Linked DNA regions of Homo sapiens. The protein of the gene in region 2 purifies or fractionates together with the protein of the main gene of each other region. This does not show direct contact. Each region holds a gene or a part of one and is shown on either strand. Other genes may lie near its edges.

Region 1 (9,743 bases), on a different chromosome or scaffold from region 2:
GTGGTTTATTACAGATACAACAAAGATTGACTATTACCACCGGCCATCTTGGACACTGCAGAATTCTAGGACTTGTGGCAAGTCTATTGGCAGGACCAGAATTAAAATTCAAGGCTCCAAACTCCTGGTCTATTGCTCTTTGGATGGCCCTACATCACCTCAGTAGCCTTCACTACTCTCTGTTATATCTCTAATAAGCCAGAGAAGCTGAACTGTGACGTTTGAGGCAGCAGTAAGGGGGCCAGAGGGAACATACCATAGAGACAGCTTATTTTGTACAGAGCCAGCCTTGTTTTGGTCTGTCTTTTGAGAACAAAGGAATGAAAGATGGTTTTAACTATTTGGAATTACCATCTCCTGTCACATCTAATGAAAACCAATCCCCGGATGGGGAAAAACAAATGCACATTTACATAGGATTTTATCTAACTTCTGGGGGTCCACAGATCCTCTGGACTACAGGTAAAAAGCCCTGGCCTCAGTGGGGTGGGTTTATGAAGCCCTCTTCTCAGAGCACCAGTCAGACAAACTCTCTCCATAGTTTGGCCAGAGTACTGCCCAGTCCAAAGCACTTGTGTGCACTGTCTGGCCTGTTTCTACGCATCCTGGGGATGACATTCACAAAGCCAGGTTCTGTTGGTTAACAGGCCCACACTTCCCATGCTATTGGTTTTTTAACTGAAATAACTTTAAACATCAGGGCCAGAGAGAAGATATGGACACTTGACTAGAAGTCAGGAAAGCAGGGTTCTCATTCCAGGCAATACTTCTTGCCTTACCTACTTGCAGAGTTACTGTAGGCTCAGGTGAGAGAGAGGCTGTCACCCAGAAAGATGAACATTAGTGAAGGCTCCTCATCAAAGGGCAACTGTGGGCTAAGCTGCATTCCCTGGATTCTCTGCCATTAAGCTGCAACTCACTCCCACTTCAGAAATCCCAAAATCATTTATCACTAATATTAAGAGAGGAAAAAGATTTTACCTTTAGACAACTTTTTCTATGAAGAAAAAAATACTAATAAATCAGTTTTCTAGTTTTTCTTCTTTGCTAGGTCGGCTATTCTTCCCCACAACTAACAAAAGGAAAGAATGAGAGTACCTTTTTTTTTTTTTTTTTTGAGACCAAGTCTTGCTCTGTCACCCAGGCTGGAGTGCAGTGGTGTGATCTCAGCTCACTGCAACCTCTGCCTCCCAGGTTCAAGCGACTCTTCTGCCTCAGCCTCCTGAGTAGCTGTGATTACAGGTGCATGCCACCACGCCCAGCTAACATTTTGTATTTTTAGTAGAGACAGGGTTTCACATGTTGGCTAGGCTAGTTGCAAACTCCTGACCTCGAGGGATCCGCCCACCTTAGCCTCCCAAAGTGCTGGGATTACAGGCGTGAGCCACTGTGCCCAGCAGAGAATACTTTTTAATTAAACAAAAATATGCAAAAGCTTGTTGTTAAAAACCACTTACTAGATTAGTTGGGCATGGTGGCACACGCCTGTAATCCCAGCCATCCAGCCTGGGCAACAGAGTGAAACTCTGTCTCAAAAAAAAAAAAAAAAACATTTACTAGGGCTGGGCACAGTGGCTCACATCTGTAATCCTGGCACTTTGGGAAGCTGAGGTGGGAGGATCATTTTAGGCCAGGAGTTGAAGACTAGCCTGGGCAACGCAATGAGACCTCGTCTCTACAAAAAAATTTTAAAAAATAGCCGGGTGTGGTGGACCATGTCCATAGTCTCAGCTACTTGGGAGGCTGAGGTGGGAGGATCACTTGAGACCAGATGACTGAGGCTGCAGTGAGCTATGATCACCACTGCATTCCAGCCTGGGCAACAGAGTGAGACCCTGTCTCTTAAAAAAAAAAAAAAAAGTCCGGGCGTGGTGGCTCACACCTGTAATCCCAGCACTTTGGGAGGCCGAGGTGGGTGGATCACGAGGGCAGGAGTTCAAGACCAGCCTGGCCAAGATGGTGAAACCCCATCTCTACTAAAAATACAAAAAATTAGCTGGGCGTGGTGGCAGGCGCCTGTAGTCCCTGCTACTCAGGAGGCTGAGGAAGGAGAATCATTTGAACCCGGATGATAGAGGTTGCAGTGAGCCGAGATCGTGCCACTGCACTCCAGCCTGGGCAACAGAGTGAAACTCCGACTCAATTAAAAAAAAAAAATCAAAAGAGATTCATTCATCAGTTTTCCAGTGACAGTTCTGAAAAACTTACACATACATCTATCATAAGAAATCTAAAATTCTTGGCCAGGCGTGGTGGCTCATGCCTGTAATCCCAGCACTTTGGGAGGCCGAGGCGAGCAGATCACAAGGTCAGGAGTTCGAGGCCAGCCTGGCCAAGATGGTGAAACCCGTCTCTACTAAAAATACAAAAATTAGCCAAGCGTGGTGGCACGCGCCTATAGTCTCAGCTACTCAGGAGGCTGAGGCAGGAGAATCGCTTGAACCCAGGAGGCAAAGTTGCAGTGCGCCAAGACCGCACCACTGCACTCCAGTCTGGGCAACAGAGCGAGACTCCGTCTCAAAAAAAAAGAAAGAATTCTGAAATTCTTATTAAACACTTATTTTGTCAACTCAGAGAATTTTGGAAAAGAAACAGAATTATGTGTGTCCACACTGAGTAGCTGCAAAGAAAACCATTAAACATGCTGCCTGTAATAAGGCAGGAACCTGGAGTCTGTAGAACACACTGAGCTGTTTTCTCTGAGTGCTGGACCATCCACATCCCCGCTAAGATCAGTGGTATGCACTTTATGCCCACAACAGACACCTGCCCAGCAGCAGGGACCACACCCAGGACTGGGAAATGGAGCCACTTCATCTACATAACATCAAAGGCCCCCATGAGGGCACATTCACAGCAGAACCCTTGGTGGTGGGCTTAATTTTTTCAGGGGATGGGGGGTAGGCTAGGATTTGAAGAGAGTAAACTAGATCTAAGGCCTAACTTTGTTACTTTTAGCTGTGGGATACTAAACTCCGCTTTTCTGAATTCCGGGATCCTTCTGTCTGTAGTGGGGATATTATAATATCTACCTGCCAAGATTTTTTGAAAGGCTTAGATTACAGATCTTGAATGTGAGGGTACCTAGCATTGAGCCTGGCATGGGGCAGCGCTCAAATCATGTCTGTTGACTCATTCCTTCCCAGAACACCCTAATCTTACTGGATCACTAGCACCTGGGGCAGAGTACGCCTGAAGACACGCCTAGGTGACAGTAGGCACTCAACTTGTGTTCTCCCCTTCGTGGACAAGAAGCGGCGGAGTGCCTATCTTCCTCCGTCTTCGAGCTATTTTAAATTTCTTCTATTACAGCACTTTGGGAGGCCGAGGAGGGTGGATGACGAGGTCAGGAGATCGAGACCATCCTGGCTAACACGGTGAAACCCCGCCTCTACTAAAAATACAAAAAAATTAGCCGGGCGTGGCGACGGGCGCCTGTTGTCCCAGCTACTCGGGAGGCTGAGGCAGGAAAATGGCGTGAACCCGGGAGGCGGAGCTTGCAATACGCCGAGATCGCGCCACTGCACTCCAGCCTGGGTGACGGCGTGATTCTCCTTCTCAAAAAAAAAAAAAAAAAAAAAAAAAAATTCTTCTATTAAAGAATTTCAGGCCAGGCGCAGTGGCTCGCGCCTGTAATCCCAGCACTTTGGGAGGCCGAGGCAGGTAGATCACCTGAGGTCAGGAGTTCGAGACTAGCCTGGCCAACATGGCGAAAACCCCTCTCTACTAAAAATATAAAAAATTACCTGGGCGAAATGGCACGCGCCTGTAATCGCAGCTACTCGGGAGGGTGAGGCAGGAGAATAGCGTGAACCCAGGAGATGGAGGTTGCAGTGAGCCGAGATCGCGCCACTCCACTCCGGGCTCGGCGATACAGCGAGACTCCGTGTCGAAAAAACAAAACAAAACAAAACATTTCAAACTGAAATGGGCGGTTAAAATGCAACTTAAAATGAGATGGTGAGTTTAACGCACCACTTTTCCACTAGGTGGTGCTGCATGTTAAAACTTTCCCTCCATTTACTCCAAAATATTAATTTCTACAGCAGGAAAACTGACGGCCCCTTGGAAAAGGAAAGAAAAGTCAATATGTCACCAAAAAAGACAATTTATTAATAACTCCTCCAAAACCTCTGTGGGTTCCCCTTGGAGTGAAGCGCGAGCAGGGAGCCGCCATAGGGAGCCAGGCCCGCAGCGCCGTTCGTCCTCAGCACAACGAGCGGCAGCGGGCACCGAATTGTTCTGCAACTACTTTTCACATCTGCCTTTTGTAGTTGCTGAACAAAATTCGTTCCCATTTGTTTCCGGTTGGCAAGTTCGTAGGCTTCGGCGGAAGTGTAAAGTCAAGGGCAAGTGGCGGAGGCTGCGGCCACCCCGGTCTCTGAGCGGCGCACCGGACAGGTGGTCAGTCCCGGGACGCGGTGACCCGACGCCCGAGCTCCAAGGCTCGGCCCACGCCGGGTTCGCCCCAGTCCCGCTGGTCCCTCAGCCGACGCCGCCGGGCCTCGCACCGCCCCCCGACCCCGGACCCCCACCCACGCGGCCGCTGTGCACTCACCATGGCCGCTAGCCCTAGGCTCTGGCCTCGCAGCGCCGCCAACAAGCGCCGCGTCGCCCCGAGCGCCCCGAGCACCGCCGCCATTGGCCGTCTGCCGAGGGCTGCCCCGCGCGCTGCCTGCCGGCCGCCCACAGCCGCCCCCGACCCGACCACGCCCAGCTACCGCCAGCCCTGGTAGTCTCCCTGCGGGGCTGGCCCGGAGCGGGGTCTGTGTGTGGGAAGCGCCCAGCCTTCCCGCGGGCACAGGCGCAGCCCGGACCCCGAACACCCCCAGGAGCTTCAGCGGTCGCCAGCGCCCTTGGCCGCCAGGTGGACTCTGCGCGCCCCACAGCCGTAGGCCCAGCAGGCGCGCGCGGTCCCCGCCCCGTGCGGGCCCGTCGCGTCTGTGCCCGGGACGCAGGTCGCCCGGCGCGCGCTGGCCTTGCCCTCCGGTCCTCGCTGCGCTAGGAGGAACTTCGCCCAGCCTCGGGCGCCGGCCTCCTCCGCTTCGCGGGCGCTAGCACCGAGCTGGGCTCCCCGCTTGGCGGCGCTGCGCGCAGTCCATGCGGGCAGGAGGATGTCGTAGGCCAGGGCGGGGCAGTTGAGCGGCGGGGCTGGGGCAGTGAACCACGGCAGTTCCCATCGGGGGCTCCTAAGTCTTGCAGTAGTGGGTTCGAACGCAGCCTCTGTTCAGTCATCACGCAGCTGCCAAGTTCTTGAGCCAGCTGGCTCGTCTGGGTTTGCCTGGACCAAAAAGTGTGGAAACCCGGCCTGTAATCCCCTCCCAAACGTGTCCGTGCCCTGTTTACCCCCAGGCTCAGCACACAGTAGGAGCTCTGCAGACAGCTGTGAACAGATTTAGGTGAATCTTTTCTTGTATCATTTTTGGGGAGGTATTCTTTCATTCTTTTTTTTTTTTTTTTTTTGACTTTTTTGAGATGTAATTGACATACTATTAAGAATACTCACTTGTATCTTTTTTTTTTTTTTTTTTTTTTGAGACGGAGTCTCGCTCTGTCGCCCAGGCTGGAGTGCAGTGGCGCGATCTCGGCTCACTGCAAGCTCCGCCTCCCGGGTTCACGCCATTCTCCTGCCTTAGTCTCCCGAGTAGCTGGGACTACAGTCACCCGCCACCACGCCCGGCTAATTTTGTTTTTGTATGTTTAGTAGAGACGGGGTTTCACAGTGTTAGCCAGGATGGCCTCAATCTCCTGACCTCGTGATCCGCCCGCCTCGGCCTCCTAAAGTGCTGGGATTACAGGCGTGAGCCACCGCGCCCGGCCTCTTTTTTGTTTGTTTTTAACTGAATAGTTTAAGCAGGCCAGGCATGGTGGCCCGCACCTGTAATCACAGCACTTTGGGAGGACAAGGCAGGAGGATCACTTGAGGCCAGATGTTCGAGATCTGCCTGGGCAACATGGCAAAACCCCATCTCTATTAAAAATACAAAAATTAGCCACGCGTGGTGGCACGTGCTGGTAGTTCCAGCTATCCGTGAGGCTGAGATGGGAGGATGGCTTGAGCCCGGGAGGCTGCAGTGAGCTGAAATCACGCCACTGCATTCCATCGACAGCAAAATACCCTTTCCCTCACCCCCCTCAAAAATAAAAAAAAAAGTTTATGCAAATTAATAAGCAGTTTTGCAGAGGATATGGCAAAATATTTTTTTTAAGAACAAGAGTCCATTTAACTTCAACTTAGCAGTTATTAGCAGTCCATCCATATGGACCTAGAAAAAATAAAGCATTTTGCCTCAAAGTAGCCCAAAATTCACGGGCTTCTGTTCTTCCCATTTGCCCACTTGACAAAATGTAACCATTTCGCCGGGTGCAGCGGCTCATACCTGTAGTCCCAGCACTTTGGGAGGGTGAGGCGGGTGGATCAATTGAGGCCAGGAGTTCGAGACCAGCCTGGCCAAAATGGTGAAACCCCGTCTCTACTAAAAATACAAAAATCAGCTGGGCATGGTGGTGCGTGCCTGTAATCCCAGCTACTGAGGAAACTGAGGCAGGAGAATAGCTTGAACCCGGGAGGCGGAGGGTGCAGTGAGCTGAGATTGCACCACTGCACTCCAGCCTGGCAACAGAGCAAGACTCTGTCAAAAAAAAAAAAGATGTAACCATTTCAAAAGCAAAACTCGGGAGGAATCACACTGGGGGCCCTTATCAAATGTTGCTGGTCCTAAAGAATTAAAAGTTATATTTCCAACATTTACATTGACTGTTTATGATCATGAAAACTACTACTCAGATTCGCTCATTAAAGTAAGAACTAAAAAATGAACCAGTGGATGTGAGTAAACAAGTGAACCTTCATTATTTTCAGTAAATTTAATCATTTTCCTTCCTTAATACCACTGTATGAAACTGGCATCTGGGATATAGTCACTGGCCAGGCAAAGTGGCTCACGCCTGTGATCCCAGCACTTTGGGAGGCTGAGGCGGATAGATCACTTGAGCCCAGAAGTTTGAAACTAGGCTGGGCAACATGGTGAAACCCTGTTGCTACAAAAAAGTACAAAAATTAGTCGCGCATGGTGGCGCATGCCTGTAGTCCCAGCTACTGAGGAAACTGAGGCAGGAGAATCTCTTGAACCTGGGAGGCAGAGGTCAAGATCGGGCCACTGCACTTGCACTCCAGCCTGGGTGACAAGAGTGAAACTCCACCTCAAAAAAATAAAATAAATTTGATCATGCAGATCTAGTCAAAAAAGCAGCGAACGGCAGATGCTAGGGCCCAGGGAAATGATGACATCAGTGGATCACATCACAGGGGCTGTGAATTGTCTGCCCACACATGTAGCTCCCCAATTAATAGGATTTAAGTCCCTTAGCAAAGATTTACTGGCCACATGCTCTGTAGTGGAACCATGCTTAGCTTGGGCTGTTCAGCTGGTCTTTGATCACTTCCTTCCCCTTTTCACTTTCCCTCAACACTACTGGTGTTTTTGTTTTGTTTTTCTGATTTTGGGGGTTTGAGACATGATCTCGCTCTGTCACCCCGGCTGCAGTGCAGTGACACAATCACGACTCACTGAAGCAGTCCTCCCACTACAGCCTCCCAAAGTGCTAGGATTCCAGCCATGAGCCCCCGCACCTGGCAGCACCAGTGTTTTGAGGCTGATCCTCTCTATACTTGAACCTCCTCTCCAGGGAATGGCTCTGCTCCACATTTCCCTCCAGGGGAACCCCATGTAGCTGGGCCATGGTGCAAAGGCAGGGCAGGGTGCCATCCCACATAAAGGTTTTGGAGTAAATTTAAAGCCTGGTTCCAGCCACTGGAAGCTGCATGAAGGAAAGCAAGTTATTGAGAGCCTCAGGTTTTTTCTTTTGCTTTGAGACAGGGTCTCACTCTGATTGCCTAAGCTGGAGCGCAGTGGCATGATTACAGAGCTCACTGCAGCCTCGACCTCCTGGGCTCAGGTGATTCTCCCACCTCAGCACCCCGAGTAGCTGGGACTACCAGGACGCACCACCACACCCAGCTAATTTTTTGTACTTTTAGTAAAGACAGGGTTTCGCCATGTTAACCAGCCTGGTCTCGAACTCCTGAGACTCAAGCAATCCACCTGCCTCAGCTTCCCAAAGTCCTGGGATTACAGGCGTGAGCTACTGCACCAACCTAGTTTATTCTTTAAAAAGGATATTAAACAAAATAGTATATGTAAAGCATCTAAAACAGTACTTGGCACTCACACAGTAATAACTCAATATAAGAGGTGGACTCACTAGAGTTTTCCTTACATTTGTATTTATAAGTACACACATGTGAAGATTCAAATCCCAGCTTCATCAACTTACAATCTGTGTAACCTGGGCAAGTTATCTAACTCTCTATGCCTCAATTTGCTCATGTGTAAAATAGAAATAATGTGCCATTCTGAGATACGGTCCCCTCCTGCCAGTGACCACCCCAAACACAGCTGTTGGAAACATGACACATAAAAGTTGTAAACTCCCATTCATTGTAACACTCTAAGAAGGAGACTCATCTGAGGTTTTATTTCTATAGAATTTAGGGTGCCTTGTGAAATAAACATTCAACTACTCTAAAACCCTGGAAACAATTAGTATAAAAGTAATTTATGATGAGGTAATTAGCTGTCATATCTGAATTTAAGGAATCTTTTAGAAACAGCTTTTCAAAAAGTTTGTTTAGGCCAGGCGCAGTGGCTCACACCTGTAATCCCAACACTTTGGGAGGCTGAGGCGGGTGGATCACCTGAAGTCAGCAGTTTGAGACCAGCCTGGCCAACATGGCAAAACCCCATCTCTACTAAAAATAGAAAAATTAGCTGGGTGTGATGGCACAGGCCCATAGTCCCAGCTACTCAGGAGGCTGAGGCTGGAGAATCGCTTGAACCCGGGAAGCAGAGGTTGCAGTGAGCCAAGATTGCACCATTGCACTCCAGCCTAGGTGACAGAGTGAGACTTTGTCTAAAAAAAAAAAAAAAGTTTGTTTAAATTACATGTTGTCTCTTTACTAAACATGTGTCTTGAACTAGACTAGAATCAACTTGTGGGCAAGAACAGTGTTTTACACTTCAATACTTCTTTTTGTTTGTTTTTGAGATGGAGTTTCGCTCTGGTTGCACAGGCTGGAGTGCAGTGGCATGATCTCAGCTCACTGCAACCTCTGCCTCCCGGGTTCAAGTGATTCTCATGCCTCAGCTTTCCCAAGTAGCTGGGATTACAGGTGCCCGCCACCACGCCCAGCTAATTTTTTGTATTTTTAGTAGAGAGAGGGTTTCACCAAGTTGGCCAGGCTGGTCTCAAAAGTCCTAACCTCAAGTGATCCTCCCGCCTTGGCCTCCCAAAGTGCTGGGATTACAGGCATGAGCCACTGCGCCCAGCCTGCTGGGAACATTTTAAGGTTCAATTAATGCATGCTGCTTAGGTAACTATGATTAAAATGTATACGTTAGCATAGAACTGATAATAATTGAGCTTTAGTTACAGCATTTCCTTTCTCCTAACATCTCCCTTACCCAGAAACAACTTAAAACACTTCAAATTTTTTGAGTTAGAGATCACAAACATCAAGGTATTTGACTCTTATTTTCCATCACTTGCTACTTGAGGGGGTCACACTAACCAATTCTGGTTACATACTTTCCTGCTATGGACTCTAGAAGAAAAACTGCAAAGAAACAGAAAACTAACCTTCTTAAACATATATAAGGAATCAAGGGTTTCCTTAAACTATT
Region 2 (10,605 bases):
CTACCTCACACTGCTACTGGGAAAATTAAATGAGCTTCAAATAGGGAGGATGAACTTAGGGCAATGCCTGGTGCACAGTAAGTGCTGAATTTGTGGAATAATATTGTCATCATCATCATCTTAACAATGCAGCCCTGGAGACCCTTGGCCCCACACAGCAGAGCCCAGGAGAAGTGAAGACCCGCCCACATCTTCCTCCTCTCTCTCCTACCCTTTCCAGGGTCAATCGGATGTCCAAGGCTTTGAGCCTCTTGCCCTCTGGCCCCTGGGGTTTCAGGGCATGCAAGGTTGTGGTATTCATCTCCACATCTGGAGGGGAGCTGACTTCTCAGTGTGGGGGCTTTAGACCTGGCCTTGATTCTTTGCTTAACCTCCGTGTGCCTCAGTTTCCGCATCTGTGAAATGGGGCTAATGATATTTCAGACTTCAGAGATGGGGAGGAGGAAAAAATGAGCTTAGCGCATTTTGTAAGCCCTTTGTGAACTCCAAAGCACTGTATGGAAGTGAGTTGATGGTCAACTTAAACAGCAGGAATGACTGGGGAGGGGAAAGTGTGACCTCGAGGTTGCTGTATGGAGCGTGAGGTAGGAGGACCCAGGTCCAAGTCCTGGCTTGCCTTCAGTCATTTGGAAGAGTTTCGTTCGGTAAGGCACTGCCTCTCTCAGCCTTAATTTGCTCATCTGTAAAATGGGATCACTAATAATAACTGCTGTATATTGCAGTTACTACATGTTTACTCTACAAGTGCCATGCCATTTAACCCTGTGGACAAGGGCTATTGTCATCTCTACCCTGCAGACGAAACTGAGGCTCAGAAGTATAAAATCACCTGCTCAAGCTAGAAAGGGGCAGAGCTAGGATTAGGATGCAGGCAGTCTGGCTTTTGTTGGGGACGTCAGATCCTCTGTCCCCCCCCCCTCCTGCCGTGGCTACTGTTTTCCTGAGTCTCAGTGCCCTGATGCTGCCTGATGGGCAGGATCAGAATACTTCAAGATTGGGGTTTGAAGGCTGAGGGCAGTGGCTCTGAGTGCCTGTAATCCCAGCACTTTGGGAGGCCGAGGCGGGCGGATCACCTGAGGTCAGGAGTTTGAGACCAGCCTGGCCAACATAGTGAAACCCCATCTCTACTAAAATACAAAAAATCAGCCAGGCGTGGTGGTGCATGCCTGTAATCCCAGCTACTCGGGAGGCTGAGGCAGGAGAATGGCGTGAACCCAGGAGGCAGAGCTTGCAGTGAGCCGAGATCGCGCCATGCACTCCAGCCGGGCCGACAGAGTGAGACTCCGTCTCAAAAATAACAACAACAACAACAAAAAAGAAACACGCTGGGGTTTGAGCTGATCAGGGACAGAAAGGACCCGGGAGGACACCCAGGAAGGAACTCTGGGTCCCAGTTTCTCCCTTGGCCACGTCTCAGGCTGCTGGGCCCTGACCAACAGGGCAGCAGATATCTTCAGGGCCTCAGACAATCCCAGTCACTCACTCATTCCTGCTGTGCATCAGCCACTGGGCAGGATGTGGGTACAAGTGGTAAATAAGGCAACACGGGCCTTGTCCTTGAAGAGCTTCTATTTTCATGGCAGGAGATAGAAAACAAACAAATCAGATGATCACAAGTCTTGACAGGGAACCAGAGAAAGTGAACAACAGTAGTGGAAGAGAGTGACGGGGGTGGGGCCCCCTTTTGGATGGAGCAATCAGGGAGCTGAAGGAGAAGGAATCGGCCATGGGAAGATCTGGAAAGAGGTTCTGAGCAGCAGGAAGAGCACGTGCAAAGGCCCTGGGGTGGGAATTGGCTTGGGGTACTGAGGAACAGCAAAGCCAAAATGACTGCAGCAAAGGCCGAGAGGAAGAGAAAGACCTGGGAAGAGATCCAGGAATTTGGTGGGGTGGAGGGAGGGGAACGAAACCAAGGCAGGGAGTTTGGACTTTATTCCTTGGCCAGGGAGGGAAACTGAGGCAGAAGGAGAGGAACAGACTTTCCCAAGGTCACTCAGGGAGCTAAGGGGGAGATCTGAAGAAAGAGCTCAGGTTCCTGCTGTGGCCACCAACATGGGGCACCCCAGGGAGGCCTGGGACCCAGGACCCACCCCGGCTTCTTCCCAGACACTGACTTCTCCCGGGAAACAGCTTCTACTAGACATTCTGCCTCTGTACCGTCTTCCCAGCCTCAACCTCCCCAATGGCCCAGGCCTTCAATAGGGGTCCCCCGCCCCTCTCTCCCTGGCTCCTTTCCTGACCCTGACGCTGGAGGCCCCACTTTTTTCACTCAGGGCGTTTTCCGATCCCTTTTGTTACCTGAACAATAAGTAACCCAGGTAGTTAGTTATAAACTCTGCAGGAACAAGGAGCTGGTTGATAATTTATAGCAACATCTCAAATTTAAATGGAAAGTAAATAGCATGCTGTTAGCATTAAAGAAAACCCAATCGGGGCAGGCGGGAAGCACTCCAGCCTCCTTGCAAGCTTGGGGCGCCTCATTCTCTCCCGTGCCCCTTCTCCCAGCTGGGTCTGAGCCCCCGCCCCCCTGGCTCCTCCGTTCTGCTTCTCCCAGCTTCTCTGTCCATCTCCCCCAATGGCCTCTCTCTACACTCTCTGCCTCAGCTTCCAGGTCTCTGCTGGTCCCTAGGAAGCACTTTGACCTCTGCTTCCCCTTCAAATGCTGTGGATCAAGCCTCCCCAACCCCACCATCCCACCAAAGGGGGCTGCTGACCGAGAGAGCTCACTCAGCCAGGTAAGAAAGCATCCCCTGCCCCCACCCTCACCCCAAAGCCCCCAGTCCCATCTGGGGCCCTGGGCAGGTCAGGCCCAGCCCCACCCCGTCAGGTTGCCTTCGCCCTGGGTCTGGGATGCCTGACTCTTTGCCCCTCCCCTGCAGCTCTGGAGTCCTTTGCCCTCCTCTTCCTGCCAAGTCAGGGGGCCCTGACTGCTCCCCTGCCCCCTGTCCAGGCCCTCGGGAGGCTCCCTGAGGCCTCTGGGAAAGCAGGAATCCACCAGCCCTCCCCCACCCCAGCTGGGATCAGGACCTTGGACAGAAAAGAGATGGGCCCCTTTGGAGCATCTTTGGGGCTCGGTCTCTCTCTGACTCCCTGGCCACCCCCTGCAGGCCTCTGGTCCCCGGTCATAGCAATTGAGAGCACCGAACAGAGTAGGTTTGGGGCCTCAGTTTGGTGAACTTAGTCTAGCTCCTTCCCGGCTCTAAGCCCCAGTTTCCCCATTTGTGAAGCAGAGTCACCAATAGCTTCTGCCCAGGACTCCTCACCATGAAGGGAAATTATTCCTGTGAAACCTCAGCACAGCGCCCAGGAAGTAGTGAACCTCCTCAAGCAGGCGCTGTAGGGTGGAGGTCAGGGAGCCGCTGGGGAGGGGTGGCCCCTGTAGCCCCCAGGCCATCCTTCCTTCTCCCCCACACCCCCATCCCCCACCCCCACTAGGTGGGAGGTGGGTTGGCCCAGATCTTTCCAGGCCACCATTCCTACAAGTTAATGATCACAGACCTTATCAGAGCCTTTTGCCATTTATAAATTTATAAAACAAAAGAGAAATAATAAAGCACATGGGTAATTAGTAACTAGGTCAGCTCTGCTGAGGAGAGGGGAGGCATCGAGCTCAGGACCCACCCAGTTCTCCAGGAGACGGGGAGTCCGCCAGCGGATGGGGATGTAGAACGGGCAGCCTCTAATGGCGCCTGCTGGTGAGGTGGGGTGCCTGTGGCCATACAGGAAAGGGGAGCAGCTCCCACCTCGAGGCTCTGTCTGCCTCAGGTAAGAAAGACCTGGGCTTCCCTGGCTAAACGCATGAGTCCCTAGGAGGCCAGGAAAGCCCCCAAACCCCAGCTTCGGGCCCTCCTCCCTGGCAGTGCTTCCTGGGCCCCGGAGCCTACCCACTGAGGACTCAGTGCAGGAGTTAGGGTCTGGAGAGTATAAATGATCAGAGTGGCTAAAAATTTCCACCACCTCCCAGTTCTCCAGGCATTTGAGTTGTGAACTCACCTGCTTTTTCTCCCATCTTGGACCCCCCTGGGAAATGTCCCCCTTGCCCAAGGACTGGGCTAAAGGCCTGGGCTCATGGGATTTGGGACTCTGCAGAGGAGCAGTTCAGGGGCTGGAGGCTCAAACCTCCAAGCAAGGACCCCTGGGCTCTCATGGGCCCTGTCCCCCTTCCCAGCAACTAGGCTAAAGGCTGAAGGTCATGGGGACTCAACTCAGAAGGGGGGCTCGTTAGGAGCTGAGGGGGGCCCCTCTAGGCTCTCCTGGGAGCGGGGACGGGGCAGGGCTCCTTACTGCAGAAGGGTCTCCACCACGGCTTTCTGGTGGGCCGCCTCCTCAGGGCTGAGGTTCTCCAGCTCTTTGAGGATGGGTGGCGTGAAGTCTTCCCCATCGTCGTCCGTCTCGTCCTCGGAGCCCCGAGTCTCCCCCAGCCCATTGGGCAGCTCAGCCAGCTCCCCTCGACCGCCGCCGCAGGACTCCCCCTTGTCCAGGGGGCCTTCTCCAGCCAGGAGGTAGGGCCCCGGCTCACCCAGTGCCTGGATCAGTGCCTCTTTGCTCAGCCCTGACTCGAGCAGGGCCGCCAGGAGCTCCGTCTGCAGCTGGCTCAGTTTAGAAACCATGGCTCGGCTGCCACAGGGCCACGCGGCCCGGGTCCACCACGCTAGCCGCCTCCCCCACCGCGTGGGTTGCGTTTGCCTGCCGGCCGGCAGACACAAACCAAACTCCTTGCACCCACTGCCCCCCCAAAACCCCACTAGCCAAGCCCTGTGGGCACCCCCAACCCCCAACCCTGGCCCCAGCGGCCCGTGAATCAGGGCCCCTGCCTGTTCTGTTTACATTGGAGCTGGGGAAATTCTCCAAGGTTCATATTTATCCGTGTGCTTAGCGAAGGGACTGAACTTTGGACTTCAGCCCTGCAAAGTGCAGGCCTCATGGCAGCGGAGAGGGACAGGGAGCTATGGCCTGCGATGGGAGTGGGCAGAGGGGAGGGTGGGGGAGGCGCAGGTGAGGGGCCCTGAGCAGCTGGGATGGAAGGTGCTGGGAGCCAGGGAGGCCATCAGGAGAGCAGCGTTGGGTCCCACCCCCGAAAGAACCTTGTAGGGGCATCATGCTGAGACAGGAGAGCCAAAAATGCTTGCTGCTTACGAGAGCGGCAGCAGCAGGGAGCTCTAGACAGCTGGGCTAGCTCTTCTCAAGGGCAGAGGATGCTCACGGCCATTTTGGGGCCCTTCCATCCATTTTGGGACCCTTCCACCCCACTCCCGGCCTGACACCAGGCCTCCCTGTAGGAAAAAATATGTTAAGATTACCATGTGCCAAGAACAGTGCTGGCTCTGTGAGGGCGAATTCACTTCATTGCATTCTGCTACCAACTGTGAGCAGTTACAGAGATTATCCCCATTTTATAGAGGAGGAAATCGAGGCTCTGAGCGGTTAAGTAACTTGTCCAGGGTCATACAGCCAGCAAGGCAGAAAACATGCAAGGTGAGACTGAGTTGGGATGAGTGTGACACTTGCCTCAGGTGCAAATTTATTTTTTTATTTTTTGAGCTATGTTCTCACTTTGTCACCCAGGCTGGAGTGCTGTGGCGCGATCATGGCTTACTGCAGCCTTGACTTCCTGGGTTCAGGTGATCCTCCCGCCTCAGCCACCCAAGTACCCAAGTAGCTGGCACTACAGGCACGCACCACGACACCCAGCTGATTTTGTGTGTGTGTGTTGTGTGTGTTTGGGTTGTGTGTGTGTGTGTTTTTGAGACAGAGTCTCACTCTGTCACCCAGGCTTGGAGTGCAGTGGAGCAATCTTGGCTCACTGCAACCTCCGCCTCCCAGGTTCAAGCGATTCCCCTGCCTCAGCCTCCGGAGTAGCTGGGATTACAGGCACATACCACTACACCCGGCTAATTTTTTTGTATTCTTTATTGAGTTGGGGTTTCACCATGTTGGCCAGGCTGGTCTTGAACTCTTGACCTCAAGTGATTCGTCCGCCTCGGCCTCCCAAAGTGCTGGGATTACAGGTGTGAGCCACTGTGCCCGGCCTTGTGTGTGTATTTTTTGTGGAGACAGGGTCTTGCCATGCTGCCCAGGTTGGTCTCAAACTCCTGGACTCAAGCCATCCGCCCACCTCAGCCTCCCAAAGTGTTAGGATTACAGGCGTGCGCCACCATGCCTGGCAGCCCAGGTGCAAATTTTAAGGGAATGCCAAAAAACCCAGTCATCAAGGTAAATAACATTTTTATGCAATATGTTTTTAAAATTAAAATGAATGCAAAACCCCAAAGAATTAAAAACAGATGTCTATACAAAAACTTGTGCGTGAATGCTCATAGCAGCATTATTCACAAGAGCCAAAAAGTGGAAAAAACATAAATATTCATCACCTGATGAATATATAAACAAAATATGGCTTGACCATGCAATGGTATAGACATATATATTTTTTTCTTTCTTTTTTTTTTTTTTTGAGATGGGGGTCTCGCTCTGTTGCCCAGGCTGGAGTGCAGTGGTGCAATCTTGGCTCACTGCAACCTCCGCCTCCCGGGTTCAAGCAATTCTCCTGCCTGAGCCTCCCGAGTATCTGGAACTACAGGTATGTACCACCACGCCCAGCTAATTTTTGTATTTTTGGTAGAGATGGGGTTTTACCATGTTGGCCAGACTAGTCTCGAACTCCTGACCTTAGGTGATGCCCTCGCCTTGGCCCCCCAAAGTGCTGGGATTACAGGCATGAGCCACCGCATCCAGCCAATGCAATGGTATATTATTTGGTCATATAAAGGAATGGAGTTCCAGTACATGCCACAACATGCATGAGCCTTGAAAACATGATGCTAAGTGAAAAAGTGGTCACTAAAGACTACATAGTGTGTGAGTCCATTTATCTGAAATGTCCAGAACAGGCAAATCCATAGAGACAGGAAGTGGATTTGTGGTTGTCAGGGCCTGGGTGGGAGAAGGGAATGGGGAGTGGCCACTCCATGGTGCTGGGTTTCTTTAGGATGATAAAAATGTTCTACAATTGATTGTGGTGATATCGGACAACTCTGTGACTTTATTAAAACCCAATGAATTGCACATTTTAAAAGGGCGAGTTTGATGGTATGTAAATCAATAAAAATATTGTTGTAGCTTTATTGAGATATACTTACCATACAATTCACCCATTTCATGTGTGCAATTCTGATTTTTTTTTTCATTTTTATTTATTTTTATTTTTTGAGACAGGGTTTGGCTCTGTTGCCCAAGCTAGAGTGCAATGGCATGATCTGGGCTCACTGCAACCTCCGCCTCCTGGGCTCAAATCATCCTTCTACCTCAGCCTCCCGAGTAGCTGGGACTACAGGTGTGCACCACTGCACCCAGCTAATTTTTTTTTTTTTTTTTTTTGTATTTTTGGTAGAGACGGAGTTTCACCATGTTGCCCAGGCTGGTCTCAAACTCCTGGACTCAAGAGATCCTCCCATCTCAGCCCCACAAAGTGCTGGGATTACAGGTGTGAGCCACCATGCCCGGCCTCAAAAAATATTTTTTAACTAATGTAAAATAATCTGTGCTGAACAAAATAGCAAACATCTAAATACAGGCCCTGTGGCCAGGCACAGTGGCTCATGCCTGTAATCCCAGTACTTTGGGAGGCCGAGGTGGGTGGATCACCTGAGGTCAGGAATTTGAGACCAGCCTGGCTAACATGATGAAACCCCATTTCTACTAAAAATTTAAAAAGCTGGGCATGGTGATGCACGCAGGAGGCTGAGACAGGAGAATCACTTGAACCCAGGAGGCGGAGGTTGCAGTGAGCCGAGATCACGCCATTGCACTCCAGTTTGGGCAACAAGAGCAAAACTCTGTCTCAAAAAAAAAAAAAAAAAAAAAAACAGGCCCTGCCCTCACCCACCAGCCACATGTGGCTACCAAGCACTTGAAAGATGGCTAATGTCACTTCTTGAAATGATAATTTTTAAAAAATATATTGAGTTAAATTTTTAAATTAAGAAAATTTTGGCCGGGCGTGGTGGCTAACGCCTGTAATCCCAGCACTTTTGGGAGGCCAAGGTGGGTAGATCACCTGAGGTCAGGAGTTCGAGACCACCCTGACCAATATGGTGAAACCCCATCTGTAATAAAAATACAAAAATTAACCTCAGGAGGCTGAGGCAGGAAAATCACTTGAACCTGGGAGGCGGAGGTGGCAGTGAACCAAGATCATGCCACTGCACTCTGGCCTGGGTGATACAGCAAGACACTGTCTCAAAAAAAAAAAAAAAAAAAAAAAAGACAATTTAAAAGTTAACATTTAGGCCGGGCGCGGTGGCTCACGCCTGTAATCTCAGCACTTTGGGAGGCCGAGGTGGGCGGATCACAAGGTCAGGAGATTGAGACCATCCTGCCTAACATGGTGAAACCCCGTCTCTACTAAAAATACAAGAAATTAGCCTGGCGTGGTGGCGGGCGCCTGTAGTCCCAGCTACTTAGGAGGCTGAGGCAGGAGAATGGCGTGAACCCAGGATGCGGAGCTTGCAGTGAGCCGAGATCGCGCCACTGTACTCCAGCCTGGGCGACAGAGCGAGACTCCCTCTCAAAAAAAAAAAAAAAAAAAAAAAGTTAACATTTAGAATAATTTTAAATTAGATTTAATTAAAATATTATTTATATATTATACAAATATAATGTTATATTTAGTTTAAAATAATTTGGTTTAAATTAAAATTTTATTTATAAAAATAACTTTTTATTTTAAAAATTAAAGAAAATAACTTCACCTGTTCCATTTTACTTTTTATTTTTTTAAGAGCCAGATTCTTACTCTGTCACCCAGGCTGGCATGATCATAGCTCACTTCAGCCTAGAACTCCTGGCTTCAAGCAATCCTCCCACCTCAGCATCCCAAGTAGCTGGAACTACAGGTACGCACCATCATGCCCAGCTTCATTTATATATTTATCTTTTTTGTTTGTTTTTTGAGACAGGGTCTCCTTCTGTCGCCCGAGCTGGAGTGCAGTGGCACAATCTTGGCAAACTGCAACCTATGCTTCTGGGGCTCCCGTGATCCTCCCACCTCAGCCTCTCCAATAGCTGGGACTACAAGCGTGTGCCACCATGCCTCGCTAATTTTTGTATTTTTTAGTAGAGACAAGAGTTTGCCACATTGCCCAGGCTGGTCTCAAACTCCTGAGCCCAAGCCATCTGCCCACCTCGTCCTCCCAAGGTGCTGGGATTACAGGGGTGAGCCACTGCACCCTGCCTATTTATTTACTTTTCTTAGAGATGGGGGTCTTGCTTTGTTGCCCAGGCTGGTCTCGAACTCCTGGGCTCAAGCAATCCTCTCACCTCAGCCTCCCAAAGTGTTGGGATTACAGGCATGAGCCATCTCACCTGGCCAGTAATGTATTTCACTCCAAGAACAACTCATGAATTAGGAACTGTTATAATCCCCCTTCTGCAGGGGAGGAAAGAGAGGCTCAGAGAGGTTAAATGACTGCTCAGAGTCCCTCAGAGCTGGGCTTTAAGTCCACCTGAGGCAGGCGGACGGGCTGTGCAGGACAAGTTGGCAGCCCCCGCCTTAAGGAGAGTGGTACCCTCTTTCCTCCAGTGCATTTATGTTTTATTTTTATTTTTGAGACAGAGCCTCACTTTGTCACCCAGGCTGGAGTACAGTGGTGCGATCTCAGCTCACTGTAACCTCTGCCTCCTGGGTTCGAGCAATCCTCCTACCTTAGCCTCCTGAGTAGCTGGGACTACAGGCACACACCACCATGCCTGGCTAATTTTTGTATTTTTGGTAGAGACAGGGTTTCACCATGTTTGCCAGGCTGGTCTCAAACTCCTGGCCTCAAAAGATCCACCCACCTCGGCCTCCCAAACTGTTGGGATTATAGGCGTGAGCCACCGTGCCCGGCCAAGTGCATTTTTTTGTAAACCCCCGTGCAAGTTGCTTTGAGGTTGAGCAGCTTACTGCTGGGGACAGCATTCTCAAGTCCAGGCTAAACAGGGAAGATGCTGTGTGCTGTCCCTTTGTGGCTTTGAGGTTCTCCTGCTTATTCTCTTTGCTGCCTGCAGCTGCCTCTTGGTGACTTTCCCTTTCCAGGGAGCCAGAGGAACCAAGGAGTGTTGGCCCTGACTCCTGCCCCCAGCATGTAAACTCATTAACTGCTGGGTCCTCAGGCAGTTAGGTGGCTGAGCATTTGAGTCTGGGACGGCAGGTGGATTTGGTTGGAGAGGGAATGACAGAGATTGGGGAGGAGCCTCCAGAGTCTAAAGAGATAGGTACACAAGCAGAAAGTTCCAGCCCCCAGCCTGCCTTTCCCCCATGCTCAGGGGACAAAGCTGAATTAACTCGAGGTCAGGAATGGCATTTGCATTTGCATTCTTGAGAGTCACTGCAAATAAGAGCTGTAGTCATGGTGAGTGGTTAAGGCAATGGACTAGAGAACCACTGAGAAAAAAAGCGAACAGTGGCTGGGCGCAGTGGCTCATGCCTGTCATCCCAGCACTTTGGGAGACCGAAGTGGGTGGATCACTTGAGGTCAGGAGTTCGAGACCAGCCTGGCCAACATGGTGAAAACCCGTCTCTACTAAAAATACAAAAATTAGCCAGGCTTGTCAGTGGGCACCTAT

What was found.
Region 1: the proteins of HNF1A (region 2) and PCBD2 purify together in Homo sapiens (affinity purification with mass spectrometry; 4 studies listed by BioGRID and IntAct, with this or other methods). This does not show direct contact.

The regions. Positions count from the first base shown.
Region 1 is NC_000005.10:134,900,039-134,909,781, reverse strand, and holds the start of PCBD2 (pterin-4-alpha-carbinolamine dehydratase 2), read right to left. Parts: upstream 4,652-9,743; 5' UTR 4,643-4,651; coding exon 4,559-4,642; intron 1-4,558.
Region 2 is NC_000012.12:120,972,774-120,983,378, reverse strand, and holds the start of HNF1A (hepatocyte nuclear factor 1-alpha), read right to left. Parts: upstream 4,837-10,605; 5' UTR 4,611-4,836; coding exon 4,285-4,610; intron 1-4,284. UniProt on the Homo sapiens protein: Transcriptional activator that regulates the tissue specific expression of multiple genes, especially in pancreatic islet cells and in liver. Binds to the inverted palindrome 5'-GTTAATNATTAAC-3'.